5 separate regions of the Homo sapiens genome follow, and all the other regions are linked to region 1. The links come from fine-mapping of genetic effects on gene expression. A gene starts in region 1. Each other region holds a variant in brackets. All regions are shown on one strand. Distances are between the middles of the regions.

The links. PIP is the estimated chance that this variant, and not a neighbour inherited with it, causes the effect. A credible set is the group of variants that fine-mapping cannot tell apart.
Region 2: its variant is the best candidate, but not a certain one, in a credible set for the expression of FAAP20 in whole blood (TOPMed, PIP 0.69).
Region 3: its variant is the best candidate, but not a certain one, in a credible set for the expression of FAAP20 in CD8 T cells (Kasela 2017, PIP 0.55).
Region 4: its variant is the best candidate, but not a certain one, in a credible set for the expression of FAAP20 in whole blood (INTERVAL, PIP 0.68).
Region 5: its variant is the best candidate, but not a certain one, in a credible set for the expression of FAAP20 in monocytes after LPS (Kim-Hellmuth 2017, PIP 0.67).

Annotation. Positions count from the first base shown.
Region 1 is chr1:2,191,386-2,197,416 of GRCh38, forward strand. It overlaps FAAP20 (FA core complex associated protein 20), which reads right to left and starts at 3,387. Exons shown (of 4, transcript NM_182533.4): 1 at 3,303-3,387; 2 at 2,613-2,748; 3 at 2,254-2,525. The coding sequence starts at 3,364. LOC112268219 (a long non-coding RNA gene) reads left to right here. Exons shown (of 1, transcript NR_168005.1): 1 at 1-1,073. RefSeq lists silencers at 3,142-3,231, 3,242-3,721 and an enhancer at 4,355-5,021.
Region 2 is chr1:2,156,647-2,162,677 of GRCh38, forward strand. The region is part of intron 10 of PRKCZ (protein kinase C zeta); the gene reads left to right. Among named protein-coding and RNA genes, the nearest start is that of PRKCZ-AS1, 24 kb to the right of the region's middle. The variant G/A (reference allele first, on the strand shown) is at 2,768.
Region 3 is chr1:2,303,382-2,309,412 of GRCh38, forward strand. SKI (SKI proto-oncogene) reads left to right here. Exons shown (of 7, transcript NM_003036.4): 3 at 1-19; 4 at 459-721; 5 at 912-1,204; 6 at 2,639-2,869; 7 at 3,196-6,031. The coding sequence ends at 3,384. Among named protein-coding and RNA genes, the nearest start is that of SKI, 78 kb to the left of the region's middle. RefSeq lists an enhancer at 3,273-3,906. The variant C/T (reference allele first, on the strand shown) is at 2,845.
Region 4 is chr1:2,052,102-2,058,132 of GRCh38, forward strand. PRKCZ (protein kinase C zeta) reads left to right here. Exons shown (of 18, transcript NM_002744.6): 2 at 3,340-3,461; 3 at 4,383-4,472. Among named protein-coding and RNA genes, the nearest start is that of PRKCZ, 4.7 kb to the left of the region's middle. The variant A/G (reference allele first, on the strand shown) is at 2,558.
Region 5 is chr1:2,117,226-2,123,256 of GRCh38, forward strand. The region is part of intron 4 of PRKCZ (protein kinase C zeta); the gene reads left to right. Among named protein-coding and RNA genes, the nearest start is that of PRKCZ-AS1, 64 kb to the right of the region's middle. The variant C/CT (reference allele first, on the strand shown) is at 2,564.

The DNA of each region.
Region 1 (6,031 bases):
TGGGCAGGGGAGCAGGGCTGCAGGGTGGGCTGGCACCTGGCAGCGTGAGGGGCCTCAGGGCTGTTAAAATCCCAACGACCGGCCGGGCGCGGTGGCTCACGCCTGTAATCCCAGCACTTTGGGAGGCCGAGACGGGCGGATCACCTGAGATCAGTTCAAGACCAGCCTGACCAACATGGTGAAACCCTGTCTCTACTAAAAATACAAAAATTAGCCAGGTGTGGTGACGCCTGTAATCCCAGCTACTCAGGAGACTGAGGCAGGAGAATCGCTTGAACCCGGGAGGCAGATGTTGCAGTGAGCCGAGATCATGCCACTGCACTCCAGCCTGGGCGACAGAGCGAGACACCGTCTCAAAAAAAAAAAAAAATCCCAGTGACCAACCCAGGGCCTCGCCACATCAACAGAGACAAAACGCAGCTCTGGCTCTCAACATCCTCACCCCTCACCAGGTGCCCAGCTTCCCATCCACCCACGTGACCCGCAGGTGTCTGAAAATGCACAAAATGTCCAAATAGGACCACAAGAAGATCTTAAAGACACAAAGAACATTCTACATAGTTTGTCAAATCCAGCATTTGACGGTCCTCTGGGTGACCCGGAGAACACCAAGGCTGTGAGAAATGGGAGGCCTCCTGGCAGCTCCACTCCCCAGACCCGCCTCTGCCAGGGCTCCAGGCTCAGCAGGCGCCTGTGCGGGACAGGGCGACGGTTCAAGACCAAGTCCGGCTGTTAGACCAGACCCTCCAATCCAGGCGGCCTCCCTGCTGGGGTCCTGTGCGGTCAGGAGTCCCAGGGCATCCCAGGGTGGCTGTGCAAACCCTTGTTCCCAAAGATATGGGGCTTGTCCCCCAGCTAGCCTGCCCATGCGGTGGCCACAGCCTCGGGTGAGTTCCGGTTCCAAAGTACCGGCTCTCCCTTACGATCAAGTGTTCGAATGTGCTTGAAGCATTCCAGACACACCAAGGCCTGGACCTGACTTCATTGACGCCTACTTAGGAAAAATTGAGGCAGTCTGCCAAGCTTTCAGCAACTGCTTAAAAAGCTCAAAATGGCAAGTTTTTCCTCGTGAACGTCCTTGTCTTCAGAAGTCTTTTTTTAGACTATCTGGAAAAGCAGGCGATGCAAAGACAAAAGCCCCTCCCCGGGGGGCGGGGGGCAGCACCCTGACAGCAACAAGGATCTCAGAGCTTCAGCCAAGAGCATGGATTTCTCCCCAGGGCTCCCAACAGTACCCTCTGTCCGTGATTCAGGGTCTTACTCTGTCACCCAGGCTGGAGTGCAGTGGTGCAATCATACTTCACTACAGCCTCCAATTCCTGGCTCAAGGGAATCCTCCCACTTCAGCCTCCAGAGTAGCTAGGACCACAGGCACGCGCCACCACGCCCAGGCATGTAAAGATGGGATCTTGCCATGTTGCCCAGGCTGGTCTCAAACTCCTGGGCTCCAGCAACCCACCTGCCTCAGCCTCTCAAAGGGCTGGGATTACAGGCGTGAGCCACCGTGCCCGGCCTTTTCTTTTGTTGTTGTTGTTGTTGGCTGCCAACTTTGGACTCCGGTGCCTTCGCATTCCCGAGCTGTTTTTGCTTCTGGAAGACCAGGGGCATCAGGCATGACTGAAGGACCTGGTCTCCATAAGCTCTGAAACCTGCCGCCCATTAACTCAACCAAAAGTTACGAACCAGCATCATTCACACCACCCCAGCCCCAGGACCTGCTCCGGAGGCCAAGGGCCCAGAGGTCGCCAGACACAAGGCCAGGCACTGGGCAGTTTGGGTTATCTTGTTAGCAAAACTGGGTTCCATTCCCCTTTACTTAAAAAATACATAAAAATATACGTTGGGTTTCAAAAATAAGAAAAAGCATCTCCAGACAAAAAAGACGATCTTCATTTTTAAAACCCATGACGCACTCTCGGGAAGGTGTTCCTGTGCTCTGGGCCTGGGGACGCTGGTGCCACCAGATTCCAGGATGGCCAGGTGGACCCGGGGCCAGTGCTCCCAGCCTTCCTTCTGTGCTGTTCTGTGGGCCCCCAGCCTGCCCTGCCCACAGAGCACGGCAAGCAGGTGGACCCCAGACCCGTGACAGAGAGCCACCTGGACATGCCAGGCCACAGCACTGGGCCACCTTTCCAGTGTGAAACAGGGCTTTAAAAGCCAGCGCTGAGCTCGGCCACCTCTTGACCTTCTGAACGGCTGTGGTTTCCAAACACGGATGGATAACCGGGCCGGGCGCAGGGGTGGCCTACTCACCTGGGGGCGAACTCCTTCTGGCACATGGGGCAGCTGCGCAGGGCCGCGGCACCCTCCACAGACGGCTGCTGCTCCACCCTGGGGGCCCTGCAGGGATCAGGTGCCGGGCGCTGGGGCAGGGACCTGGCGGGGGATTCCAGGTGCCCTCCTGCCCCGTGAAGCAGCCGGTAGGAACGGCCCGGGCCCCACAGGTCCGGCGGAAAGGGTGTCCAGGAAAAGGTCTTGGGTCCGACAGTGAAGACTTCAGTGGGCTCCGGGCCGCACCTGGGCTCCTGCAACACAGAGTTGTTGGGCCTTGCCCAGCGATGGCTCCCGCCCTGGAAACCCCTTCATCGCTAAGATGGGCCCAGTGGGCACACCTGTCCTGGGAAGGCGGGCAGTGAAGGCACCTCGTGATCCAGGATCAGCTCCGGGCTCACCGTGCGCAGTAGCTCGGCCCAGAGCCGCTCCCGCTCATCACCCCCCAGGAGAAACCAGGGGCGGCCGCCAGAAGGCCTGGGGCAGACAGAGAGGGCAGACAGGGGGTACTCAGTAGCGGAAACGCTATGGTGGGGAGACCCGGGAGGGCCTGGGGCAGAGAGAGCGGGGAGATGGGGGGTACTAGAGGGAAATTCGATGGTGCGGGAGGTGGCCGGCAGGGTTGGGGGAAGGGCTGCTGGGGCAGACAGTGCGGAGATGAGGGGTACTGGGGGTGGGGGAGCGGGGTGGGTGGGTGGAAATATGGGGTCCTCAGCGGGATGAGGCGATGGTTGGGGAGATTGCGGAGGGCCTGGGGAAGGTAGAGGGTTAGATGGGGGGTGCTCAGGGGAGACGCGATGATGGGAGAGGCGCGGGAGGGCCTGGGGCGGCGCGGGGGAAGCTCGGCGTGGGGTGGGGGCTCAAGGCGGGCGCTGAATGGCGGCGCGGGGTGGGGCGACGGGCGTGGGGGCCGGGCCCGGGGGCAGGGAGCCCTCCCCAGGGGGAGAATAGAGCGGGAGGCCCGCGGGGGCGCCGGGAAGCACGTGGGAGCGGGAAAACCGGCCGCGCCCCCGCCCGGCTCCCGGCCTCACCCGCCCGCCGGGCGCGGCCTCCGGCGGCTCAACCCCAGCCGCGGCCTCCGCGCCGCCTCCATCCAAGCCCGCGCCGGGCGGAAGTGAGCGCAAGCCCCGCCCCCGCCCCTCCAGGCCCCGCCCCCGCCCCGGCCCCGCCTCCAGACCTCTGCAGCGAGGCCGCCCCCCTCCGAGACAGTCGGAACCCCAGGGGCCCTGATCCCAGCCTGTAGGGAAACTGAGGCCAGGGTTCCTTCGTCCTGCACCGCACAGGGGGGCCTGGCGTGAGGGTGGGGGGCCCAGGTGGGGGAGCCCCGCCCGTGTCCCCTTTCCCGTCCGGGCAGCCCCCGGGCCGGAGCCCCCTCCGTTACCCCGATGGCTGCCCGGCCCGCCCCGGCACTGCCTCCTCCCGGCTGCACCCAACAGCTCCCGCCCCCGTTTCCGGCTCTGCGGAGCCGCCTCTCCTCCCAGGACCATTCCAGGAGTAAATAAAGCTTGAAATCCGCCGTCGCCACCACCGTTTCTTTACAAAAGGCGGGGAACTCAAGCTCCTTAACCAAGAAACCAGAGGCGAAGTGACAAAGTCCAGGTGGCTCACTTGGGCCTCAGGGGCCTGGGCCAGGGCCCTGGGGGCAGCTGAGGGGCTTTCCTGCCTGGACCCCGGGCTCTGCGACCTCAAAGTCGGCCACGTGGTGGCAGCAGCCGCCCAGGCACCCTGGTGCCACACTTGGCTGTGCCCAGTGCCCCATGGGCCCAGGCCACTTGCCTCTCCCTTGGCCCTGCTGGGCCCTGGAGTGGCTGCCACCCTCACGGAAGGAGTGGGGTCTACAGAGATCAGGGTCAGGGGCCCTCGCCAGACGCCACTCAGGGCTCTGGGACTCCTTGGCAGTTTCTGCCCTGCCCAGCCCCAGCAGCTTTGGGGCTATGCTGGGCACCCCTCCTGCAGGGCTCCCTGGCTGTTCCTACCCCTCACCTGGCCCCTCCCAGCCCCCAGTCGTCTGTGCCCTCCCTCCAGAACTCAGCTGTGGAGCCCGGCCCTGAACCCAGGCCACCCGAGTGGCCCACCGTCCTTCAAGGGGCCCCAGCCTGGAGGCCATAGGTTGGTGTTCAGGGAAAGGGTCAGCAGCAGGGCCTGGACTGGGAGGTCCCCCTCTCCCTGCATGAGTGGTTTTCTTCCGCACACCTTCCTGCTCTAGATGCTGGAGGCCCCCAGCAGAACAAGATGGAGGCACCAACCCCCAGGCCCTTCGACTTGAGTGAGCAGATGGAGATGCAGCGCTGAGTGCTGCCCGGGCAGGGGGAGGGGGCCTGGGGGAGCTGCTGCAGGCCGTGTGGTCTCAGGGGGCCCTGTGGGAGGTAGCCTGTGGCTGGGCCTGCTCTCAGGCGAGAGAAGCCCAGCCGTGGGGTCTCTGCAGCCCCACGTCCACCACATGGCAGGTGCCAGCTGACCAAGCGCTCTCAGACAGCCAGTGTCCAGGGCTCCCCGACAGTCCTGGCTGCCCTGGCTTCAGCTCCGAGCTTCTGGGTCTTTCCTGGAAATGTCACCATGGTCTGCAGGAGGGCCTTGGGTACTTCCAGGAAGACTGGTCCCAGCCTCCCAAGACAGGAGAAAAGGCCAGGCCCAGCAGCCCATGCCTGCAATTCTAGGACTTGGGGAGGTCCAGGCAGGCAGATTGCTTGAGCCCAGGAGTTTGAGACCAGCCTGGGCAACATGGCAAGACCTTGTCTCTATAAATAAAAAATTAGCTGGGCATGGTGGCATGTGCCTGTGGTCCCACCTACTTGGGTGGCTAAGGTGGGAGGATCACCTGAGCCCAGGTAGGTGGGGGCTGCAGTGAGGCAAGATCGTGCCACTGCACTCCAGACCCCAACTCAAAAAAAAAAAAAAATAGGCCAGGTGTGGTGGCTCAAGCCTGCAATCCCAGCACTTTGGGAGGCCAAGTCGGGAGGATCACTTGAGGCCAGGAGTTTGAGACCAGCCTGGCCAACATGCAGAAACCCCATCTCTACTAAAAATACAAAAATTAGCCGGGCATGGTGGTGCACACCTTTAATCCCAACTACTTGGGTGGCTGAGGCACGAAAACCACCTGAGCCTAGGAGGCATAGGTTGTGGTGAGCCAAGATCGCACCACTGCACAACAGCTTGGGCATCACAGCAAGACTCTGTCTCGAAAAACAAAAAAAGACAGAGGAGAAAAGCCCTTGGTGACAAGTGTTTGCTCAGCTCTCTGTGCCGTGCTGGGGGTGGTGGGGGGTGTTCTTGCTCCTTCCTCTCCCTTCCCCACTCTGGCTCCCAACCCCAGGGTTCTGCTGTTGGACCCGGGGGTGGCTCCTGCCTCCTCCTCCTCTATGGCCCCCACATGGTCCAGTGCCCTCCTGCCATGGGACCGGCCGGCCTCTGGATGGGCTCCGAGCCCCCTGGGACCCATCTCCTTCCCTGCCTGGGTCCCTTGGGCAGAGCCTGGGAAACTCAGGCCCCTGCCCTGTCCTGGAGGACCATGTGAGGGACACCTGTGTGTGGCTGCTGCCCCAGAACAGGGGCCTTTCTGGGCGGGAGGACCCAGCCCCCACCCCTGGAAAGCCAAACACTAGAGCTTTGCTGGGGTCTTCAGCATCCTTCCAGCCCCTCCCGGCTCCCCCATGCAGGTGCCCTGGCCACTGGGCCCAAGAGGGGCAGAGCCGAGCAGAAGCAGGGCGGGGTCTCAAGTGACCCAGACCCGGGACACCTGCGCTGCCCGGCTGGCGCA
Region 2 (6,031 bases), 35 kb before region 1:
CTGGGGGCCACAGCTGGCATACTGCACTGGGGAGATAAAGGAGACTTGGCCAAGGAAAAAGGCACATGGGGAAAATTCCAGAAGAAACCAGTCACAAGCTCCCAAGAGCCCTCTCCCAGTTCCTCCAGCAATGAATTGTGACAACTCATGGTTTTTGTCAAGGGCTGGTCATGCAGGCTGCACACGAACCAAAATTCCAGACTCCCAGTGGAGAGCAGGTGTTCAGCATTGCGTTAGTCAGGGTTCTCCTGAGAAACAGAACCAGTTGTGTGCACGTGTGTGTGTGTGTGTAAAGAGATTTATTATAAGATACTGGTTCATGGGATTATGGAGGCTGAGAAATCCTATAATCCGCCATCTGCAGGCTGGAGGCCCAGGAGAGCCAGTGGCACAGCTTGAAGGCCTGAGAGCCAGGAGCTGATGGGGTCGCTTCCAGTCCGGGTCTGAAGGCCTCAGAGCTAGGAGCAAGGGGGCCAGAAGGTGGATAGCTCGGTAGTCAGGGAAACGCAGCCTTCCTCCTCCTTCTTGTTCTCTTCACGTCCCCAGGGGCCTGGATGATGCCAGTCTACTTCAGGGAGGGCCGTCTGCTTACTCTTCCAGAAGCCCCCTCAACAGGCATGCCCGGAAGTCATGTACAGCCAGCTACTAGGGCGTCCCGTGCCCAGTCAAGGTGACCGTTGAATTCACCATCACGAGCATAAGGCATCCTGTTCAGGCACACACAGTTTGGGCACAGCAAGCAGCTCTTATTCCAAAGCTTTTTTTTTTTAATGTGCTTTTCTTGTTTTTGAGATGGAGTCTCGCTCTATCACCCAGGCTGGAGTGCAGTGGCAACATCTTGGCTCACTGCAGTCACCACCTCCTGGGTTCAAGCAATTCTCCTGCCTCAGCCTCCTGAGTAGCTGGGATTACAAGCACCTGCCACCACACCTGGCTAATTTTTGTATTTTTAGTACTCTGTGTTGGCCAGGCGGGTCTCGAACTCCTGACCTCAAGCCATCTGCCCTCTGCAGCCTCCCAAAGTGTTGGGATTACAGGCATGAGTGACTGAGCCCCGCCTCCAGAGTTTTTTTTTTTTTTTTTTTAAATAAAGATAGGGTCTTGCTCTGTCGCCCCAGGCTGGTCTCAAACTCCTGGGCTCCTGCCTCAGCCTCCCAAAGTGCTGGGATTACAGGTGTCCACCACTCTGCCTGGCGGTCATGCAGAAGCATGTTATATCCGTGTAGGGAACTGTTTGCAGTTCACGTTCCCAGCCCCAGCTCCGGGCCAGCTTTGCGGGCCAGGCTTCCTAAGCACAGCGGTCCTAGGCCCTGGGTGCAACCCTCTGCTGCTCGGTTCTTAGCTGTACATCTGGCGACTTGCTCTCCTCCGCTGCACTCTTGGCTCTCCTGACCGCAGGGTCCTGCTCTTGCCTGTGCTTGGCAGCCACCTCTGTCTGTCGGAAGAGCCGGCGTGACCCGGCCGTTCCCCGACCTGCTCTACGTGCGGTGCCGTCCTGGTCAAGGGTTCCTGTTTTCTGGCTGCTTACGCCTCCTAAGTGTGTTTCAGGGTCCCCCACCCTCCCCACCTGACCCCAGGGCTCCCCAGTGTTGGCTTCCCCATGTTGGGCCTGAGCCATATTTGAGAAACACAGATCTGAAGTCTTTTTCCTGCCTCAAAGCTCCTCTGATTCCTCCTCCCCAGTTGCTTCTGGGGTAAATTCCAAGCTTCCTGTGCGTGTGGACGAGGCTTGTGGTGACCAGGCCCCAGTGCCCCATCGTGTGCTTCAGCGTGGCGCCCTCGCCCGCACCGCCTGCGCCTGACGGCTCTGTCCCCTTTCCTTCTGCTCCCCTGCTTCCCGGAGTGAGTCAATGCCTCCCTTTGTGCATTCCCATTGCGCTTTTCCAGGCCTCTTTCCGCCCTGACTGCCATCCCTTGCGATTTGGGAATACGCCCAGGGGAAGGCAGCCCGGCCCCCCACACTTCCTAAATGGTGAGGTTCCAAGAAGGGTTTTGTTTTGCTTTGGTTCTTCTTCATATGTGAACTTGTAGGGATGTAGATGTATAAGGGGTCCGATATCCCACCCTCACTTCCCCTGAGTGGCCCAAAGCTCAGCCCCTTCTGCACTTGTGTCTTTGGACTCTTCTGTCAAGTCACAAGTTCCCAGATGCGTAAACCTGAACTTAAAGAATTGTCGTCTGTGGGGTGTCTGTGGGATCCCCGCAGCGGCACCAATCACTGTCCTGTGGGAGCATTCGGCATTCACAGTTGGGAATAATTCCTATGCATGTCTGATTTTTTTGCCTTTTTTTTTTTTGAGACGGAGTCTTGCTCTGTCACCCAGGCTGGAGTGCAGTGGCACGATCTCGGCTCACTGCAACTTCCACCTCCCTGGTTCACGCCATTCTCCTGCCTCAGCCTCCTGAGTAGCTGGGACTACAGGCGCCTGCCACTACACCTGGCTAATTTTTTGTATTTTTAGTAGAAACGGGGTGAGCTCCGGGTTGGGGGGAGGACCGGCAGCTGCCTTAGTCCAATAGCTGGGGGGCTGTGAAAACTGCCCACAAATTCTTACTGACCACACAGCACCAGACACCCACGTGAAGCAAAGCCAACATCGGCAAGGCGGCCACGCGTCCGGGTGGCGGAAAAGTCTGGCCTGGCCCAGGTGGGTGTGCTCGGCTGTGCCGCCTCTGCTCCCTGGTCACTGGAGGTGACTGCAGGCTTTATGAGGACTTCCTCTTTGTGCGTTGGTTCTGCTGGAACATCCAGCTGAGGTTTTGCGTG[G/A]GCCCCTTGCTGAGGGCCAGGTGAATAACACGCAGAACAGGACACTCCTTCGCTCTGGGCGGCCTCACAGCTCCCGGGCCATATCCAGGGGGAACCTGGCCGATGAAACTGCAGAGGTTTCCACACAAGTTTGGTTCCCATAAAGGGTCTGTGAGTGGGGAAGAATCAGAATTGCTTTCTTTCCACCCCAAATCTGGTCTTGCCTCTTCTGGCCGGCCATGTTCGTGTCCACTGGGCGGCTACAGGGAATTCCTGAATGTTACAGTTCAACATTAGTCTCACCTCGTGTGTCCAGATGGAGAGAAACAATTCATTCGCAGTTTTAAGACACAATAAGCACCTGCTTTATGGACAAACCATACCCCATATCTACACAGACAGCCCACCTTTTCCAGACAGCAGCCAAAATTGAAATGAGCCATAAAGTCTCCAAAACGAGAAATCGCTTCAGTTTAAGCTATTTCAGGAAAACCAGGTAACTAGAGATTTAGCTGAAATGACTACTTTCAGCGTCCCCCGCCCCATTCAACTGGAGTCGGAGGACACTTTCTCACTAAGGCACGGTGATCTCAGATGGTAGGTGAGCAAACTACCCTTAAAATACGCCCATTCACTCGCTGTTCTAAAATAAAATCTCTTACTGTTTGCCACGGTTGATTATTTTACATTCATTCACACTCAATGTTTCTTTAAAAAGAACAAACACACACCTTTGCTTATCTGTGGAAGCGCTTCTCAGGCCGTGCACTGACTGAGACACTTGAGTAAGCTCTTCTTGGTCAAACTGACTTCTAGACATGAAAAGCACTTCACCCAGCAGTGTGCGTGTGTGTGTGTGTGTGTGTGTGTGTGTGTGTGTCAGTTATGCTTTGAAACCTGCCCGAAGCTCTGGAGAGGGAGACAGCTTTACTAACAGCAGAGAGTGACGTCCCTGGAACTGGTCACCAGCGTCAGGAGGCGTGGCACCCGGGGAGGGTCCGCAGGGAGCAGAGTGGGACTCCGTGGAGAGGGGGGCAGGCAAGGGTTGGGTCACGTAGGAGGGGCTCATGGGGGACAGGCCTGTGGGAAGGACGAGGGCAATGGTGTGTGTCAGGGACAGAAGAGAACCAGGCCTGAAGGTGCCAGGGGCTTTCGAAGCTGGACTTGGCCAAGAGGCCCTGGGATGCGGAGGCCCCAGGGATTCTCAGTGCAGTGCTGGTGTTGGGCAGGCACTCGTGTGAGGAGTAGGATCTGGGCCGCAGAAGCCAGAGGGACCTGCTGGGCCTGTCATGGCCTGGAGGGAAGCCTTAGGGGGTGGGGAGGAGGGGCCTGTCCCCATGTGGGGGAGTCACCCCGGTTCGCAGAAGTCAGGGCAGTGCTGGCCAGACAGGCACAGAGCGGAGCCAGCCTGGACGTGGAGGACTCGGGGGTGCTGTGGCCTGGGATGGAGACGCCCCGCCCCGCCGGGGGTGATTGTGGTTGTGGGTGTGTGAGAAAGAGGTGAGGGTGTGACGGGGTCTGACCCTGGGGTGCTGCCTCCTCAGGGCTGCAGGAGGAGGCGCCGCCGTCGGGGTGGAGGCAGTAGAGGGAAGGGCTCAGTGGGTGCCACAGCAAGGACAGCCTCGGCCGCGACCTTGGGAAGGGCAGGTGCCTCTTCTTGGGGAACATGAGTCACCTCCCTTTCAAAACCCATCCGTGTGCTGGAGTCATGGGAGCTCAGAACAGAAGGAGAGATCCTGACTGACACCCGTAGGGCCCAGCGTGGGCGCAGCCGCCTCAGCCTTTGTTCTGCCGACACACGGTGACGGCTCAGCGGCCCCCTGATTTGCTCACTTTTCATCGGGGTTGCCTAAAATGGTAAAAGTGCCACCCTAAACCCTAGCACTTCCGGAGCAGGACGCTTGGGCCTGTGGCCCCCACAAGGCTGTGCACGGGAGAAGGGGCTCTTCCCAGCATCAGGGGCCTGGCAGGAGCCAGGGGCTTGGTTTGCCTTTTGCATTGCGAGGGCGTCCTGCACTCTTCGGGAACACTGCGGACAGCTGCGCATGCATCCTCCCAGAGCCCTGGGCAGTGAGGGGCCCTCGGGGACCCCCAGGACATGGGCTTTGGGACACACCTGCAGTGTACAGGGGGCCCTGCTGTTTCCTGATGTGGTGTCACAGGCCACACAGGACTGTGCAGAACACGGGAGAAAGGGATGCGTTGTCTGTAGTTCTAATCGGGAGGCACTGGCCGCTCTTAGAACAGGTCAGGGGGCAGGTGTCATTGCCATTCGGGGTCACGTTAGGACCGGGGGACCTCCACTGCAGGCTTGGAGATGATTTTGCTAGTAGTGAGCAGAGATGAGGTCATGGCATCTCCCCTTCTCCATCCAGACCCGAACGTCCCATGCCACTGCGCCCTGCATGGTTCCCAGGATGAGCAGGGATAGGGGTGGCAGCCCTGGAGCCACCTGGAGTCTCCTTAGTTGAAGGAACTTTCAGGACCGGTCCTGAAATTGTGCCTTTGCTGCTTAACTACTAGATAACGACAGAGACCACATAAAACAAGAGCCTCTTTATAAACTTGTATCCCATTTTAACGTGCAGGAAAGAACCTTCGTCCGCACTCCAAAGACCCTTGACTAACCAGCGTCACCATCCAGACAGTTTTGCCTCGTTTTTCCTTTTCTCTTGTTTATTTTTCCATGTGGACTTTATAATCAACCCGTCTGCCTCCAGAAAGAAAAAGAAACTGGGATTTTCTTTTCTTTTCTTTGAGAAGGGGTCTTGCTCTGTCACCCAGGCCGGAGTGCAGTGGCGCAATCTTGGCTCACTGCAACCTCCGCCCCCTGGGTTCGAGGAATTCTCATGCCTCAACCCCCCGAGTAGCTGGGAATACAGGCCCCTGCCACCACACCCAGCTAATCTTTGTAGTTTTAGTAGAGACGGGGTTTCACCCTGTTGGCCAGGCTGGTCTCAAACTCCCAACCTCAAGTGATCCACCTGCCTGGGCCTCCCAAAGTGCTGGGATTACAGGTGTAAGCCACTGGGCCTGGCCCGAAACTGGCATTTTCATTGGGATTTGTTAAGTTCACACATTACCTGGGGCGAAATTGACATCCTTCTAAGTGTTGGATCTTCCCATTCAGGAACCCGGTTTACCTTTTCATTCACTCACATCCTCTTTCAGGAGACTCTTGAAGTCTTCATGTGGTTTTCTTCACTTCCTTGTCTAATTATTATTATTATTATTTTTACAGATGGGGGTCTTGCTATGTTGCCCAATCTGGTCTCAAACTCCTGG
Region 3 (6,031 bases), 110 kb after region 1:
CGGCCCTCATCCGAGACAGGTGAGTGGGCGCCATTCACAGGTGTTTCTGATCACGGGGGAGGCTCCACGAGGGCTGTGCATGCGGACGCGCCCATGTTTCTGCAGGCTGGGTGCCCAGACCTGCCGCCTTTTGGTCAGGGCAGTCTCGGTGTTGGTTCCTTTGGCTGGCATCAGGGAGAGCACACCTAGAGCGTTCCCTGTGTTCTGGGTGGAGTCGTGGGTGGAGCCCTGTCTGCTGGGCGCAGCTTCTTGATGTGTTGGCCTGTGTCTGGCCTTCGCAAGAGACCCAGCAAGCAGAAAACGCTTACGGGTTCTTAGGGAACTGTAAGCTTGACTTGAAGATTCGGAGCTGGGAAAGTCTTTCCTGTTTAACACCTTCAGAGGGGGTGTGCGCCAGGATGTGTCTGGGTGGTGCTTGGGGACAGAGGCACCTTCCCGACACCCGCCTGCCCCTCCAGCTTCTACTCCTACAAGAGCTTTGAGACAGCCGTGGCGCCCAACGTGGCCCTCGCACCGCCGGCCCAGCAGAAGGTTGTGAGCAGCCCTCCGTGTGCCGCCGCCGTCTCCCGGGCCCCCGAGCCTCTCGCCACTTGCACCCAGCCTCGGAAGCGGAAGCTGACTGTGGACACCCCAGGAGCCCCAGAGACGCTGGCGCCCGTGGCTGCCCCAGAGGAGGACAAGGACTCGGAGGCGGAGGTGGAAGTTGAAAGCAGGGAGGAATGTACGTGTGAGTCGCTTTCTGTGCCTCCTCCCTGTGGGCTGTGGGGGTGGCACTGGCTGAGGGGGGCTGGTCGCCGGGGGTGCGTTGGTGGCCCCATGTTTCGCAGGTTCCTCCGGGAGCGGCGCGTCTCCCTGGTGTGGAGCTGCCGGGCACTTCCATGACTTTGTTTCTGTCTCTGCTTCCTCCTCAGTCACCTCCTCCTTGTCCTCGCTCTCTTCCCCGTCCTTTACCTCATCCAGCTCCGCCAAGGACCTGGGCTCCCCGGGTGCGCGTGCCCTGCCCTCGGCCGTCCCTGATGCTGCGGCCCCTGCCGACGCCCCCAGTGGGCTGGAGGCGGAGCTGGAGCACCTGCGGCAGGCACTGGAGGGCGGCCTGGACACCAAGGAAGCCAAAGAGAAGTTCCTGCATGAGGTGGTCAAGATGCGCGTGAAGCAGGAGGAGAAGCTCAGCGCAGCCCTGCAGGCCAAGCGCAGCCTCCACCAGGTGAGCGGGGCGAGTGGTGCTGGGAGGTCCAGGGCACGGGCAGTGAGCACAGCCTGCACCAGGTGAACGGGCACAGGTGGTGCCTCCTCCCTTCCTGGCTGCCCCATGCGCTCCTCTCTGCCTCCACCTCAGTGGGCCTGCCTGGGACCTTGGGGGTCCGTCTCCCAAAAGCTGCAGCCCTGGGTATGGTGAGCCCCTCAGTGTCCCCAGGCTGATGGACATCCCAGGAGGCCACTACATTTGGCTTGACCACAGCTTTCCCCATCAGGATCACACACCCTGCGTGGTGGCCCCACTGAGGAAGTAGCCATGTTTCTCTGGTATAAGGGAGGCCGGGCTATTTTTAGTGGCAGAAAGAGTTGGGAGCAGCTGCATGGAGACAGTTCCTTGCTCTGTGTGCTCCAGGAGTGGGTGTTCACGCGCTCCGCCAGCAAGACCTGGCGTCTGCAAAACACAGGCGTGAGGGGCGTGCTTACTAATGCCTGGTGTTCCAGAAGGCGGCTCCCGCCAGGCCTCCCGAGTAGGAAGGAGAGGGCTCGGCCCGCACAGACACACACACACCCACCTGCACACGCTGCTTCTCTGGGCTCTGCCTCACGGTTCTCACGCTGCAGCTCCGGTCTCGCGCCTCCTTTTACGTTGTTTAGGTTTCTTTCTGACATGACTGAGGGAAGTGCGGTTCACAGGCAGAGCTGCCTGGGGAGAGAGGTGTGCAGGCGGCCCGTTGTTCACCGGGCCCCGGCCTCGCTAAATTCACACCTCGGCGGCGTCTGGCAGCTTCCGCGGCGTGGGCTTTAGCACAACACAACCCCGTCGGCCCTCAGAGCTGCAGGGTTGCCGACGTGCCCTCCTGCGCGTGCCAGTCCCTCGCCCCAGCACGTCCCCCGCCACTGTTGTCCTTGATTCTGGTTGGAGGTGTGATTTCCCACATACATATTCATGTGGTGTGTTTGCAGCGTGGGGTGTGAGTCACACGGATATTTTAATGGGGAGAGTGGGGGGGCTTGCGGAGGCGCCGGGCGGATGGACGTGTCCATCTGGCTGCGTGGGGAGACCCGGGGCCCTCAGATGGTGCGATGTCTGAGGCTGCCCTCCTCACATTGATGGGAGCCAGGGCCTACTTGGCTTGCTGCCCCCAAGGGGAACGTGGCCCTAGATACCGGGGGAGGCCCCGCCGCAGCCTCAAGTGACTGACTCAGGCCCCCAGGTTTAGCACAGCTGCCACAGGCCTGGCGGAAACTCCGGATGGGGGTCTGAAAAGCCTTTGTGGGGTCGGGGCACCACACGGGTTGGGCTGATGGCGCGCTGGGGGCGGGGCTCCAGGGCACATTGTCAGATAGATGACCCCACGGGGTGGGCTGAGGACTGCTGGTCATGGTGAGGGGTGTGCTGGGACCGGCTGGGCAGTGACCCCGAGCCGCCTCCGGCCCCCAGGAGCTGGAGTTCCTACGCGTGGCCAAGAAGGAGAAGCTGCGGGAGGCCACGGAGGCCAAGCGTAACCTGCGGAAGGAGATCGAGCGTCTCCGCGCCGAGAACGAGAAGAAGATGAAAGAGGCCAACGAGTCACGGCTGCGCCTGAAGCGGGAGCTGGAGCAGGCGCGGCAGGCCCGGGTGTGCGACAAGGGCTGCGAGGCGGGCCG[C/T]CTGCGCGCCAAGTACTCGGCCCAGGTATGCGGGTGGGGAGACTGAGGCACGCAGCACGGTGGGCGTGGAGCCGCCGTGGGCCCCGGTGGCCAGTCCTGCCCAGCCGGAAAGGCCTTGGAGCAGAAGCCAGGCCCGGGACCACGTTCCGTGCGTGCCCCCCCGACGGGCACAGGGTGGGTGGTTGCTGGGCCCTGCGTCTCGTGAGCCTGTGTCCTAGCAGGTGGAGGAGGGGCCGGCACGCGGCACTGGGGAGGGACAGGGAGCGGCGCAGGAGCCTCGGGTGGGGGAAGCAGCGTCGGGCCGGGGCAGGGCAGCGAGCAGGCGCCGCTGACCACTCGGCTCCCTTTCAGATCGAAGACCTGCAGGTGAAGCTGCAGCACGCGGAGGCGGACCGGGAGCAGCTGCGGGCCGACCTGCTGCGGGAGCGCGAGGCCCGGGAGCACCTGGAGAAGGTGGTGAAGGAGCTGCAGGAACAGCTGTGGCCGCGGGCCCGCCCCGAGGCTGCGGGCAGCGAGGGCGCTGCGGAGCTGGAGCCGTAGATTCCGTGCCTGCCGCCGCAGCGCCGCCGACAACGCGGGTGCAGGGGGGCGCGGCTGGGCGGTGCAGCTCCGCCCGGCTCCGCCCCTGCAGCCCACACAGCACAACGTCTTACCGTGCCTATTACCAAGCGAGTGTTTGTAACCATGTAGTTTTGGAACCCACTGCAAAATTTTCTACTGGCCAAGTTCAAGTGAGTAAGCCGCGTCCCCCAACTACAGCTGGAGACGGGGCCAGCTCGGCGGCCTGCTGGTCCTCTGCTTGCTGGAACATTCTAACATTTACACTTTTGTTATAAGCTATTTAAAACCAGTAAGGAGACTTGAAATTCAGAAAATCAACACATTTTTAAATGACTAACTTCTAAAAGCCCCAACACATGACGCCATCTGAAGACCCGCAACGGAGTGGGGGTGGCGGCCGCCCCACCCTCCCCACCCGGGGAAGCCATCACAGCTCATCTGCCCGCGGCTGCGTGAGGACAGCAGGGGTTTTTCTTCAGAGTCTATTTTTTCAGCGACAAGGACCCAGGTCTTCCTGCTGCTGCCAGGGAGAGCAGGGACAGTGCCGCGTGCGAGATGAGCTCGAACACTGCCCGCCTTACTGCCGCCTACCCCGCCCGCCACGCCGCCGTCGATGCCAGCGCTGTCCCCACGGGTACCAGGAAGTGCAGAGCCGCACAGGAGCTGCCCCGGAGCTGAGGGGACGGTCTTCGGCTCCTCTGCACCCCGTGATTCTGCCCACGCTCCTCCACCACGAGGCACTGACCTGCGTCGGGTGGTGACCGTGGCTGGCGGTCACGCCCTCAGCCCCTCCGGGCACACGTGCCGCCTGACCGGGCGACCCTTTTCAGTTCGGCAAACGTCGCTCCCTTCATTTTGGGACTGAGGCTGCAGCATTGGAACAAAAGAGCATTATTTCAATTTTTCTTTCTTTTTTTTTGTTCGTTCATTTAAACGTATATTTAGAACTGCACTTTGTCCACAACCTTCCCTTCTCTTTCTATTCCCCAGTGAACTGAGGTTTTTACCGATTTATAGAGCAGTCAAATCCGAAGTGCTCGAGTGCTTAGAAACCCCCTCTGGTGCTTGGTTGAACAAGGGAATCACAAGAAAACGAAAATGCAAAAACTGAACTTCGGGGGTCGTTCTGTGCCTTCCAGCATCTTGTACAGCAAATCCTGACTCGTGTCTTTTTACCCCCAAGATATCTGTCTTCAGTAGCGACTGAATCTGCCACTCTCAGAATAAGTTCCTTGCATTTATTCCAAATAATCTCGTTTACTCTCACCTGTTTATGCAAATTGTATAAGGTTTCTTATGCCCAAGCTTGAAAAATGATTTCCCAGTAGACAAGAGGCGGCTACCTATCCTACAGTTACGGTATTTATTTACATAAGAAGATCTTACAGGAGTTCTTTGCTTGAATCCGTTCTAACACCCGCGGCAGCTGCACGCGCTCACAGAAGGTGGAGGTTACTTGCCCAGGTACAGACGACCTCGGGGCAGTGACGAGCAAAGACCAGAGACTGCTGAGCCCTCGCATCTGGGTGGCGGAATTGCCTGCGGGGTTTTGCCCTTGGTTTACTGAGGGGGGTCTTGGTTGCTGCTGAAGCCCCCCACCCCTTCTAAAGTGCAATGCAAAAGGGACATCATGTATATGCAGCGTTTGTTTGGAATTTTCTTTGCTTTTGTTTTCTTTGCGGTTGTTCTGTGTGCATGGATTCCACACCTCTGCCGTAGGTAGATCCGTCAGCGGGCATTATTACCGTGTCTTGTAAAGGGTCGGTTTTGTTATGCAACATGCAGAATGCTGTTTTTAGCCTTGTTTTACCAGAGTTGTTTTTTTTTTCAGTTATTTCTTCAAGGGAAACTAAATGATTTAGTTGGAGCAAAGCTTTAAGTGTGTTGGCGTGCTTCTGTGTGGCTGTCCTGTGTCGCCAGGTCGAAGATCACAGTGAGGTAGAGGCCCTGCCCCATCCCCAGGGCCGCCAGGCTTGCTCCGTTTGCTTTGAGTTTTTAGACCCCAGAGGGAGATGAGCTTTTCCAAGCTGTGTCTGGGCCAGAGCCTCTCCTTGCCCTTGCTCCATCCCGACGGTCACCGTTGGGTCCACGCCTCCACCGCCCCATCTTGCCCCAAACGGAAAGCGCTGTATCTGCAGTGGCAGCCCTTCCCCACTTCGGCTCTGGGAGGGTCCAGCCAGTGTCACCTGGGCCCACCCTTTCCTGCAGCTGCCAGGCCCGTGCGGTCAGTGGGACCCGGACGTGGGCAGGCGAGCTCGGGACCCTCCCAGGCAGTTCCCACAGCTCTTGCCTCGGCTCACCAGGGTCACTTCCACTGTCAGGGGCCTGAGGGGGCAGCTGTGGCTGCAGGGCTGCTCTGGACTGAGGGGTCCCAGGCCCCGAGGGGTGCACGCCTGGCTCCCCTTGGCACAGGTGCGAGTCCGTTTCTTTTCAGCAGAAGGGGGAAGAGGTGTCCGCTGTGTGGGCTGCTGACTCCTCTGTGTGTGAGGCCCTTCATCTAAGTGATTGTGTATTCAGTTTAATTCTCATTATATTTCTATACTGAAAGAAGATTTTTAACGAAGGGAAAAACAACAGCAATAACATTCATATCTCTGGAGCAGCTAACTCATACACGTAATGTCTG
Region 4 (6,031 bases), 140 kb before region 1:
TGGAGCCACCACACTGGGCAACAGGTGATGGTGCGGAGCTCAGGGGAGTCCTGCGAGAGGGAGGTCCACACCCGAGGGGCTGCAGGGGCCCAGACCCTCCTGCATTCCGGCGTCCAATTCCTGGGACCAAGGCTCGGAGGCAATGCCACTGGAGTTCTGGGCCGCCCCGTCCTCCCTCTGCCTTGCTTTGGCCCCTGGGAGCACTTTGGTGGTGGGGCGGGTGTAATTCCACCCGGTGACTCTGGTTTCCCAGGCTGGAGAGACCAGGCTCCCACCCCTTCCTCTTCCCTCCCTTCCCGGACTCTCTCCCCTCTCTCCCCACCCCTTCCTCTTCCTCCCTCCTTCCCTGTTGTTTTCCCTCCTCTTCCCGCTCTCCCCTCTCTCCCTTCCCTGCCACACCTCTTCCTTCACCTTCCTCCCCCTTCTAGGGCACGTCTCCCCTCTGGCTCTTCCCTGCTCCTACCATTCCTTCTCTCCTCTCTCCCCTCCCAGGTCCTCCTCCTCTCTGCTGCAGAGTGTGAAGTACCCTTCTCCCCGTTCTGGCTCCTCGTCCCTCTGGGCACCCGGTGCCTCTCTGAGGGGACTGGCTGTGGGGTGGGACACTCAGGCCTTAGGGCAATGACACAGTTCCAGAAAGCGGCTGCCAGGATGAGTACTGGGTTATTGAAAGCCCTAGAAACTCTGTCCCTGGGGTGAGACGCTGCTGTCCGTGGGGGTAGCTGAGCGTGGACACGTGGAAGACTAGTCTTTAGAAAAAGGAAGAGCACTTCAGTCACCCCCATGGGGCATGGCCACCCCGTCATCCTTGCCTGTCCTCCCAGGGCCCTCTGAGCACACTTGAGATCCAATCCTCGCCACCCCACCCCGCCCCCTGTGGGCCTGAGGGGTCCCCAGGCACCTGTGTTTTCAGGGAGTCCCAGGTGGCCTGGGCCAGACTCCCACGCTGAGTCTCAGATGCCCGCTCTTCTAGGGCCACAAACACTGGTGCTGGCTCTTCCCTCTTTCAGCTCAGACTTTTTTTTTTTTTTGAGTCTCGCTGTGTTGCCCAGGCTGCAGTGGTGTGGTCTCGGCCCACTGTATCCTTCACCTCCGAGGTTCAAGCAATTCTCCTGCTTCAGCCTCCCTAGTATCTAGGACTACAGACGCCCGCCACCACGCCCGGTTAACTTTTGTAGTTTTAGTAGAGATGAGGTTTCACTTTGTTGGCCAGGCTGGTCTCGAACTTCTGACCTCGTGATCCGCCCGCCTTGGCCTCCCAAAGCGCTGGGATGAAAGGCGTGAGTCACCGCGCCTGGCCCAGCTCAGACAACGTTTGTGTTCAGGGAGCTTCTGTGTGCAAAGCCCAGGGCTTGGTGCTGAGGCCAACAGAGACGCAGGAGTCTCTCCCGGGCGGCCCAGCTGGCTGCTGGGTGCTGAGTCCTGGACGCCCCTGCTGAAGGGCACAGGGCAGCTGTTTGATTCAGGATTGGGATAGGGTTGGAGGTGGTGGCCTGACACTTCCCAAGCCCTGGGGTTTTACTGGAGCCACCCACCTGGCCTCTAGATTGGCCGGAAACTGGCTTCCACTGGAGGCAGGACTGTAGGGGTAGGGGCGTGGGGCAGGAAGAGGTCAAAGGTGAAGTGATGGCCGACTCCCACTCTGGAGTTCCTGGTGGTCAGACTTTTGGACTCCAGGTCAGGCAGCAGGCGTGGATGTCAGCTTGGGGCGACCCCAGGGTGATGGGTGTGTGACCCCCCTCCATTCCTTACTTTCCTAATCTGCCATGATGCTGTGGGCTGTGGCGAAGACCAGCCAGGTTGGTTCCTGTGGGGTGCTTGGGCACTGGGGGCAGGTGCTGGGTGGCCAGTTCCAGCAGGAAGGGGTGGGTAGCTGGGGCGTCTGTCCCCCAGGCCCAGGTGGCCCAGGGTGACTGGGTGAGGCCTGTGGGGCAGGTGGGCCCTGGGCTGCTGTGTCAGGGCCGCGGCTGTGGACCGATCCTGTGTTCTGTTTGCACTGGAGTTCTTGTCTGGGATGAGAACTTTGTTTCTTGAAACTTGTCTGATGAATTCAGATAACCTTGATGGGGAGCCAGCAGTGTCAGCGAAGAGCAGAGCCTGTATCTCTGGTTGGGACATCTCACACCCCTTCAGGCTTCTTTTTATAGGCCCTGTGCTCTTGCCCCGCGCTCTTGTGGGTGTCAGAAAGCCGTAGATTTTTCTGAAAATTCAGTGTGTTCACAAGGGTGTGATTCCCGCTCTGAGTTTCAGGAAACACCAGCTGGGCCCTGTGGTGGTCCCTCCCCTCCACGCAGGGTGAGACCAGCTCTTGCTCAGTGCAGGAGGTGAGGGGGGACCTCGGGTCCCTATCAGCAGGGAAGTGCCAGCCTTCAAAGGGTGCCTGGGAGTCCGTGAGCTTCCCCAGCCCCTGGAGTTCAGGTCCTGTCTGGGGCTGAAAAGATAAAACACACTGACTCTGTGTGACTCGGTTTTAAAAAAAAAAAAATCTGCCGGGGCTTCTGCCGTGGCTGCAGCAACGGACCCAGTGCCCACTCCGGGGTCTAAAGAGTGGCCTTTCATT[A/G]TGGAATTATTTAATCCCCGCCACTTCACCGCTGGCACCGTCGAGGTCTGGGGGCAGGTCTGACTGGTTTCCTTTACCTTAGTGAAGCCGGCGGCCTGCACCGACCCGGCTCGCGCCCATCCCGGGGTCACCCACATTTGGGTGAACTTGAACGAGTGCCCGACCAGGTAACGTTGCCGGACCTCCCACAAGAGGGCACTTTCTTTTCTCCCATTTTGTCCTCATTCTTTCCAGCCAGGTAGGTCGCGCTTTTTTCTCTGTGCAAGGAAGTTGATGGTGGTCATTTTTTTTTTTTTTTTTTTAATACGGAGTCTCTCTCTGTCGCCCAGGCTGGACTGCAGTGGCGCGATCTCGGCTCGCTGCAAGCTCCGCCTCCCGGGTTCACGCCATTCTCTTGCCTCAGCCTCCCGAGTAGCTGGGACTACAGGCGCCCGCCACCGCGCCTGGCTAATTTTTTGTATTTTTAGTAGAGACGGGGTTTCACCGTGTTAGCCAGGATGGTCTCGATCTCCTGACCTCGTGATCCACCCGCCTCGGCCTCCCAAAGTGCTGGGATGACAGGTGTCAGGCACTGTGCTTGGCAATGGTGGCCATTTTTTAAACTATGGTTATGGTTAATGGTTCTATTTTGTGTGTGGGAGGGGGGAGGGGGTGGGGCTGTCATATTGTCTTTGGGGAAAGTTTCATTTATCTAATCAATGATTTGGTTAGTTGGTAATCATTTTTTAATTTGATTCAAATATGCCCCACGGTAACAGATGCCCATGTCCCCTCTGCCCCAGGGACATCTTCATCACCAGCGTGGACGCCGCCACGACCTTCGAGGAGCTCTGTGAGGAAGTGAGAGACATGTGTCGTCTGCACCAGCAGCACCCGCTCACCCTCAAGTGGGTGGACAGCGAAGGTAGCCCTTGTCCCATGTTGGCCAGAATCCTCAGCCTCAGGGGACTTCGCCAGGGCAGCCTCTGTGTGCGGAGTGTGCTCAGCCAATTCTGTGGGGAGACTTAAAGCTGTGGAATTAAACTTGTTGGCGCCAACTTTTCCCCAGTGGGGATGGTGGGAAAGAGGTTGGCCACAGATGCTTATCAAGGACCTGGGCCCAGATGCCCCTAGGAAGGGCTCTGGTCTTGAACTGCCTGCAGGGGGTCTCCCTGCCCCACCCTGGGCAGGTCCTCACCTCTTCCTCTGACCTCCTTTCTCATGTCCTGGCCTTTTTCGGTAGGTGCTTCTGAAAGGATGGGCTCTTCATATTCTAGGGACCACGGGGAGGGCACAAGCAGCCAGGGCCTGCCGTGTCCACCTCCTGTCTCTTAGACACATCCTGAAAAACAAGGGGATTGGGAGACGTCCAGAGAGACCCCTTTCTCCCAGGGACTGGCGGGCAGCTCTTGGCCAAGGACACGGCCGTGCGGGTGGAGCCTGATAGCGCCCCCGTTGGGTTGGGTACAGCCCTGCAGGGCCTGGGTTCTGTACACCTCCATGTCCCTTTCCAGCCATAGAGGGCAAGGAGCTCTCCCTCCGCCCAGGACTGACCTCCGGAGAGTGTCCTCAGCCCCGCTCACTGCTTAGCCCTCCAAGTGGTGCCCAGGGCTGCAGGTGTACTGACTTCCCTTCCGGGGTGGCTCTGACGCTGCACCGGGGGCCAGGTGACTCCCTAGTGTGGACGGCCGTCCTTGGACCTCCCGACCCTGCCAGGAGGTGGCCAGTCTGAGCATCGGGACTTTGCCCCCCACCAGACCCTTGTCTGGTGTGCTGAGCGGGCTCGTCACAGCCCCCTTTGCCTCGGGCCTTCGGCGACGTCAGCACCGTCTCCTGCCCCACCCAGGTGACCCTTGCACGGTGTCCTCCCAGATGGAGCTGGAAGAGGCTTTCCGCCTGGCCCGTCAGTGCAGGGATGAAGGCCTCATCATTCATGGTTAGTGGCGGGGTCTGTGGTGGGCAGCTCTGGGGGGCTGTTCCTGGCTGTGGGTGTCTGCCGACTAGCTGGGGGATTTAAAATGGTTTAAAATCCTATGATGCCAGAGAATTTAGGGATGTCTAATATAATGCCATTTGGGTTTTTTTCTTTGACTTTTTTTTTTTTTTTTTGAGACGGAGTCTTGCTCTGTTGCCCAGGCTGGAGTGCAGTGGCACAATCTCAGCTCACTGCAAGCTCCGCCTCCTGGGTTCATGCCATTCTCCTGCCTCAGCCTCCCGAGTAGCTGGGACTACAGGCGCCCGCCACCACGCCCGGCTAATTTTTTGTATTTTTTGTAGAGACGGGGTTTCACCGTGTTAGCCAGGATGGTCTCAGTCTCCTGACCTCGTGATCTGCCTGCCTCAGCCTCCCAAAGTGCTGGGATTACAGATGTGAGCCACCGCGCCCGGCCTTTTCTTTGACATTTTATTAACCCAAATGAAAACTGCTCTTAACAAAGAACCCGTAAACCACTCAGAGGCTCCAGTGGCCAGCGTAGGGCCCGCGGCGCATGTGGACAGAGGGGACAGCCCCACCAGCCACCTCACCTGCCCGGTGCTCCCTAGGCCCGGCTCCAGGCTCACAGCTGTCCTCAGCTTTAAGTTCAAAGCCCCATGATGAGCTGACGCATGGGAGATGTGATTGTGATCATTTCCACTTTGTCTTTAGGTGGGCGTGGGCTCCTCCCCGGTACTGCTGGGGGTCTGCAGGGCGTCTGGGGCCTGGGAATGTGGTTCCAGCGCTGTGGCCAGCCGGTCACGTCTTTGTCTCTGTGTCCACTTCTGGCGTAGCTTGGGCTCCTTGCCAGGCGTCTGGCCATGGACGATTGAGTCCAAGATGGGACCAAAGCTCGAAACCACCCATGGATTTCTGACAGATCCATCATTCTCCTGGACACCGGGCTACCTGGTTACAACACTTAATTTTCTTCGCCCTTTATATCAATGAGGCTCTAAATTTAAAGACTAGGCCGGGTGCGGTGGCTCACAACTGTAATCCCAGCACTTTGGGAGGTCAAGGTGGGAGGATCGCTTCAGCCTAGGAGTTCAAGACCAACCTGGGCAACATAGTGAGACCCCCCCCTCTCCAAAACTTGTTTTATTTTTTTGAGACAGAGTCTGGCTCTGTCCCCAGGCTGGAGTGCAGTGGCACTATCTCTGTTCACTGCAACCTCCACCTCCCAGATATAAGCGATTGTCCTGCCTCAGCCTCCCGAGTAGCTGGGACTACAGGCATGTGCCACCACACTTGGCTAATTTTTTTTTTTTTTTAGTTGGAGTCTCGCTCTGTCGCCCAGGCTGGAGTGCAGTGACGCGATCTCAGCTCAATGCAACCTCCGCCTCCCGGGTTCAAGCAATTCTTCTGCCTCACCCTCCCAAGTAGCTGGGACTACAGGCATGTGTCATCACGCCTGGCTAATGTTTTGTATTTTTAGTAGAGACGGAGTTTCACCATGTTAGCCAAGATGGTCTCGATCTCCTGACCTCGTGATCCACCCGCCTCAGCCTCCCAAAGTG
Region 5 (6,031 bases), 74 kb before region 1:
AGATGCAAGCCACTGCACCCGGCCTTAAATTCTTTCAATAATATTTTGTAGTCTTGTGTGTAGCGGTCATCCACATTTTTTGTTCAAATGATTCCCTGGTATTTCAGTGCTTATGCTGTTTTAAGCCGTATTACTTTTACAGTTTTTTTTTTTTTATCTTTTTGTTTATAGCAATGTGTAAAGAAGTGTGATTAACTCATTTGTCTTGGCCTCTCCTGGTCCCCGTAGTTTGTCTGTGGTTGCTCCGGAACCTCTCTGTGCGCTGCCATTTTGTCAGTGACCGGCTGTTTGTTTCTGCCTTTCCTTCAGATGTTGCCTTGTTACCCTGGCACTGTTGATCCTTCCAAAACAGTATGGGACAGAAGTGGTGACAGCCACATCCTCTCGTGCCTGATTTCAGGGAAAAGCTTTAAGAATTCCACCATTAAGGGTGCTGTTTGCGGAAATACTGTTTTTCCTTCGTAAATCCCCACCAACAAATTAAAGAGGTTCTATTTTATTCCTAGTTGAAAGTTGTTAATATGAATGGTGCTGAATTTTTTCAGATGCTTTTTTTCCTTCATCTATTGATGTGACAGAACTTTTCTCCTTTATTCTGTTCATACGATGAATTCTATGGATTGGCTCTTAATGGTAGACCGATGGCATTCCTGTAGTGTGCCTCGTTTGGTTGTGATGAGTTCGCCTTTTTATATTTTGCTTGATTCAGTTTGCTATTATTTTGTTTGTTGTTTTTGCAACTGTATTTATGAGAGAGATTAGCCTATTATTTCTTTTTTTTTTTTTTTTGGAGTCTCACTCTGTCACCCAGGCTGGAGTGGAGTTCAGTGGCCCGATCTGGGCGCACTGCAACCTCCGCCTCCCTGGTTCAAGCGATTCTCCTGCCTGAGCCTCCTGAGTAGTTGGGATTACAGGTGTGTGCCACCACGCCTGGTTAATTTTTGTATTTTTAGTAGAGACAGGGTTTCACCATGTTGGCCAAGCTGGTCTTGAACCCCTGACCTTAGGTGATCCGCCCGCCTTGGCCTCCCAAAGTGCTGGGATTACAGGTGTGAGCCACCATGCCTGGCCATATCTTCCTTTTGATTGATGCTTTTATCATCATGAAATGTTTTTGTTTTTTTTTTTTTGAGACAGAGTGTCGCTCTGTCCCCCAGGCTGGAGTGCAGTGGCACCATCTCCACTCACTGCAAGCTCTGCCTCCTGGGTTCACGCCATTCTCCTGCCTCAGCCTCCTGAGTAGCTGGGACTACAGGTGCCTGCCACCGCGCCTAGCTAATTTTTTATATTTTTAGTAGAGACGAGGTTTCACCGTGTTAGCCAGGATGGTCTCGATCTCCTGACCTCCTGATCCGCCTGCTTCGGCCTCCCAAAGTGCTGGGATTACAGGCGTGAGCCACTGTGCCCGGCCAAATGTTGCTCTTTAGATGAAAATATTATTGTCATTAACATCTGATCTGTATGATGTTAGTGTGACCACACCAGCTCTGTGTGTGTGTGTGTGTGTGTGTGTGTGTGTGTGTGTGTGTGAGATGAGGGGAGGGAGGGAAGGGGACTTAGTGTTTATATGCTCTATTTTTTCATCCTTTCACTTTCTTTTCTGTATATTTTGGAAATGACTCTTAAAAGCAGAAGTTAGTTATTTTTAATCCAGTCTGAAAATGGCTGTGTTTTAAATGAAAGATTTAGTCCGTTTACATTTAATGTCATTCTGATGTGTTACATTGTAGCTTTGTCATCTTGCTATGGGTCCTTATTTGTCCGGTCTGTTCTTTGTTTTGTCCCTCTTTCTTGCCTTCTTTTGGTTTAATCAGATGTTTTTATTCCACTTTCCTCCCTTTATTATTATAGCTTTGTTAAGTAATACTTCTCTTAATGTTATTTTAATGGCTACCTTAGAAATTATGAGTCACATCCTTGGAACGTAGCATAAACTACTTTTACCATTTTCTTCAAAACCTTATAACAGTTTAATTCTTATTTTTTCCTTTTTTTTTTTTTTTTTTGAGATGGAGTGTCACTCTTGTTGCCCAGGCTAGAGTGCAAGGGCGCGATTTTGGCTCACTGCAACCTCCACCTCCTGGGTTCAAGTGATTCTGCTGCCTCAGCCTCCTGAGTAGCTGGGATTACAGGTGCCCACCACCATGCCCAACTATTTTTTGTATTTTTAGTAGAGGCAGGGTTTCACCATATTGACCAGGCTGGTATCGAATTCCTGGCCTCAAGTGATCTGTCTGCCTTGGCCTCCCAAAGTGCTGGGTTTACAGGCATGAGCCACTGTGCCTGGCCTAATTATTCTTCTTTCCTTATTGTTAGTTTGTGCTATTATTTTATCAGTCTTTGTGCTGTTATTATCATGCCTGTAAATTCTACGTGTATTTCAGACCCACAAACCAAGTGTTGTCTTAGACAGTGGTCCTTCAGATTTACCCCCAGGTTACCCTTCTAGTCTTCCTGCAGGACGGCGCTTACATGGAGACCAGCTTCCTTCTGCCTGAAGTAGTCCCTTTAGTATTCCTTTCAGCACAGACTTGTAATTAATTCTTTTTATTTCTTTTCTTTT[C/CT]TTTTTTTTTTTTTTGAGATGGATTTTTGCTCTTGTTGCCCAGGCTGGAGTGCAGTGGTGTGATTTTGGCTCACTGCAGCCTCCACCTCCCAGGTTCAAGCGATTCTCCTGGCTCAGCCTCCTGAGGAGCTAGGATTGCAGGTGTGCGCCACCACGCCCAGTTGTTTTTTGTTTGTGTGGGAAATGTCTTTGGCATTCTTTCTGGAGGGTGTTCTCCACTCTGTGTGGAGTTCTAGGCAGGTAGGGGGTTTCCCCCAACAGGTTTTTGTGTTGGCTTGGAGTGTTTGTCATTTCTGTGGTGAGGGCGCCTTCCAGCCTCACTGCCACCCCTGGAAGGCAACATCTCTTTTCTCTGACTCCTGTTAAAAGTGTTTTCATCACAACAGCAGCCTTGTGAAGGACAGAGGAATCGAGAATTTCTCCTAATTGAGATTGGTAGAGCTTCTTGAATCAGGGACATGATAGCTTTTGTCTCTTTTGGAAAATATCAGCCCTTGACTTTTCGTTTTTTTTTTTTTTTTTTTTTTTTTTTTTGAGTCTCGCTCTTGTTGCCCAGGCTGGAGTGCAATGGCGCGATCTCGACTCACTGCAATCTCCACCTCCCCGGTTCAAGTGATTCTCCTGCCTCAGCGTCCCGAGTAGCTGGGATTACAGGCACTTGCCACCATGACCGGCTAATTTTTTTTGCATTTATAGGAGAGACAGGGTTTCACCATGTTGACCAGGCTGGTCTGGAACTCCTGATCATACATCCACCTTGGCCTCCCAAAGTGCTGGGATTACAGGTGTGAGCCACCGTGCCCGGCCAGCCCTTGGCTTTTCAAATAGCATCCTGTTCTCTCTCCCCTGGGACCCCCACACTTCACACCTGTGTGTCTAATGTGCTCTTTTTTCTGGGTTTCTTCTGCGTTGGTTTTTTCCCGCTTTGTGCTTCAATGTGGATTTTTTTCTACTGTTATCTCTTATTTCACCCAATCTACTCTTAAATCTACCCTTTAAATTATTAATTTCAGTCACTTCATTTTTTACTTTTAGAATTTCCATTTGATTCTTTTTTTTTTTTTTTTTGCCCAGGATGGCAATGGCACGCTCTCGGCTCACTGCAACCTCCGCCTCCCAGGTTCAAGCAATATTCCTGCCCCAGCCTCCCAAGCAGCTGGGATTACAGGGTCACACTACCACGCCCCACTAATTTTTATGTTTTTATTAGAGACGGGGTTTTGCCATGTTGGCCAGGCTGGTCTCGAACTCCTGACCTTGGGTGATCCGTTTGCCTCAGCCTCCCAAAGTGTTGGGATTACAGGCGTGAGCCACTGCGCCTGGCATCGTAGTTCTCTCTTCTGGGGTGGGAATGTCTATTCTGTGTCCTTCTCACGTGCAAAATACTGTCATTACATCCCAATGGCCCCAGAACCCTTAACTCCTCCCAGTGTGGCGGGGGCAGTCTTGTCTGAACAAGGCATGGGGGAGCCTGGAGGCCCATTCCTCCTGAGGCCAAGTTCCTCCCTGGCTGTGGGCCAGCATAAGCGAACAAGGCGTGTACTTCCGGAATGCTATGGACTGAGTGTGTGTCTCCCCAGAATCCATATGTTGAAGCCCTAACCCTCCAGTGTGATGGTGTTTGGAGACGAAGCCTTTGACAGGTAGTTAGAGTCATGGCGGTAGTTAGTTAGAGTCATGGCGGTAGTTAGTTAGGGTCACGGTGGTAGTTAGGATCATGGTGGTACTTAAGGTCATGGCAGTAGTTAGGGTTATATCAGTAGTTAGGGCTATGGCTGTAGTTAGGGTGATGGTGGTAGTTAAGGTCACAGCAGTAATTAGGGTCATGGTGGTGGTTAGGGTCACAGTGGTAGTTAGGGTCACGGTGGTGGTTAGGGTCGTGGTGGTGGTTAGGGTCACGGTGGTGGTTAGGGTCACGGTGGTAGTTAGGGTCACGGCGGTACTTAGGGTCACGGCGGTGGTTAGGGTCACGGCGGTGGTTAGGGTCACGGTGGTGGTTAGGGTCACGGCGGTGGTTAGGGTCACGGTGGTGGTTAGGGTCGTGGTAGTTAGGTTCATGGTGGTGGTTAGGGTCGTGGTGGTTAGGGTCACGGTGGTGGTTAGGGTCACGGTGGTAGTTAGGGTCACGGCTGTAGTTAGCGTCATGGTGGTGGTTAGGGTCACGGCGGTGGTTAGGGTCACGGTGGTGGTTAGGGTCACGGCGGTGGTTAGGGTCACGGTGGTGGTTAGGGTCGTGGTAGTTAGGTTCATGGTGGTGGTTAGGGTCGTGGTGGTTAGGGTCACGGTGGTAGTTAGGGTCGTGGTGGTTAGGGTCATGGTGGTGGTTAGGGTCACGGTGGTGGTTAGGGTCGTGGTGGTTAGGGTCGTGGTGGTTAGGGTCGTGGTGGTTAGGGTTGTGGTGGTTAGGGTGGTGGTGGTTAGGGTCGTGGCGGTGGTTAGGGTCGTGGCGGTGGTTAGGGTTGTGGTGGTTAGGGTCACGGTGGTGGTTAGGGTCACGGTGGTGGTTAGGGTCACGGTGGTAGGGTCGTGGTGGTTAGGGTCGTGGCGGTGGTTAGGGTCGTGGCGGTGGTTAGGGTTGTGGTGGTTAGGGTCACGGTGGTGGTTAGGGTCACGGTGGTGGTTAGGGTCACGGTGGTAGGGTCGTGGTGGTTAGGGTCGTGGCGGTGGTTAGGGTCGTGGCGGTGGTTAGGGTTGTGGTGGTTAGGGTCACGGTGGTAGTTAGGGTCACGGTGGTGGTTAGGGTCATGGTGGTGGTTAGGGTCACGGTGGTGGTTAGGGTCGTGGTGGTTAGGGTTGTGGTGGTTAGGGTCGTGGCGGTGGTTAGGGTCACGGTGGTGGTTAGGGTTGTGGTGGTTAGGGTTGTGGTGGTTAGGGTCGTGGCGGTGGTTAGGGTTGTGGTGGTTAGGGTTGTGGTGGTTAGGGTTGTGGTGGTTAGGGTCGTGGTGGTTAGGGTCGTGGCGGTGGTTAGGGTTGTGGTGGTTAGGGTTGTGGTGGTTAGGGTCGTGGCGGTGGTTAGGGTCGTGGCGGTGGTTAGGGTCGTGGCGGTGGTTAGGGTTGTGGTGGTTAGGGTTGTGGTGGTTAGGGTCACGGTGGTGGTTAGGGTCACGGTGGTAGTTAGGGTCACGGTGGTGGTTAGGGTCACGGCGGTGGTTAGGGTCACGGTGGTAGTTAGGGTCATGGTGGTGGTTAGGGTCACGGTGGTAGGGTCGTGGTGGTTAGGGTCGTGGCGGTGGTTAGGTTCATGGTGGTGGTTAGGGTCGTGGTGGTTAGGGTCACGGTGGTAGTTAGGGTCACGGTGGTGGTTAGGGTCACGGTGGTGGTTAGGGTCACGGTGGTAGTTAGGGTCACGGTGGTGGTTAGGGTCACGGCGGTGGTTAGGGTCACGGTGGTAGTTAGGGTCACGGTGGTGGTTAGGGTCACGGTGGTAGGGTCGTGGTGGTTAGGGTCGTGGCGGTGGTTAGGTTCATG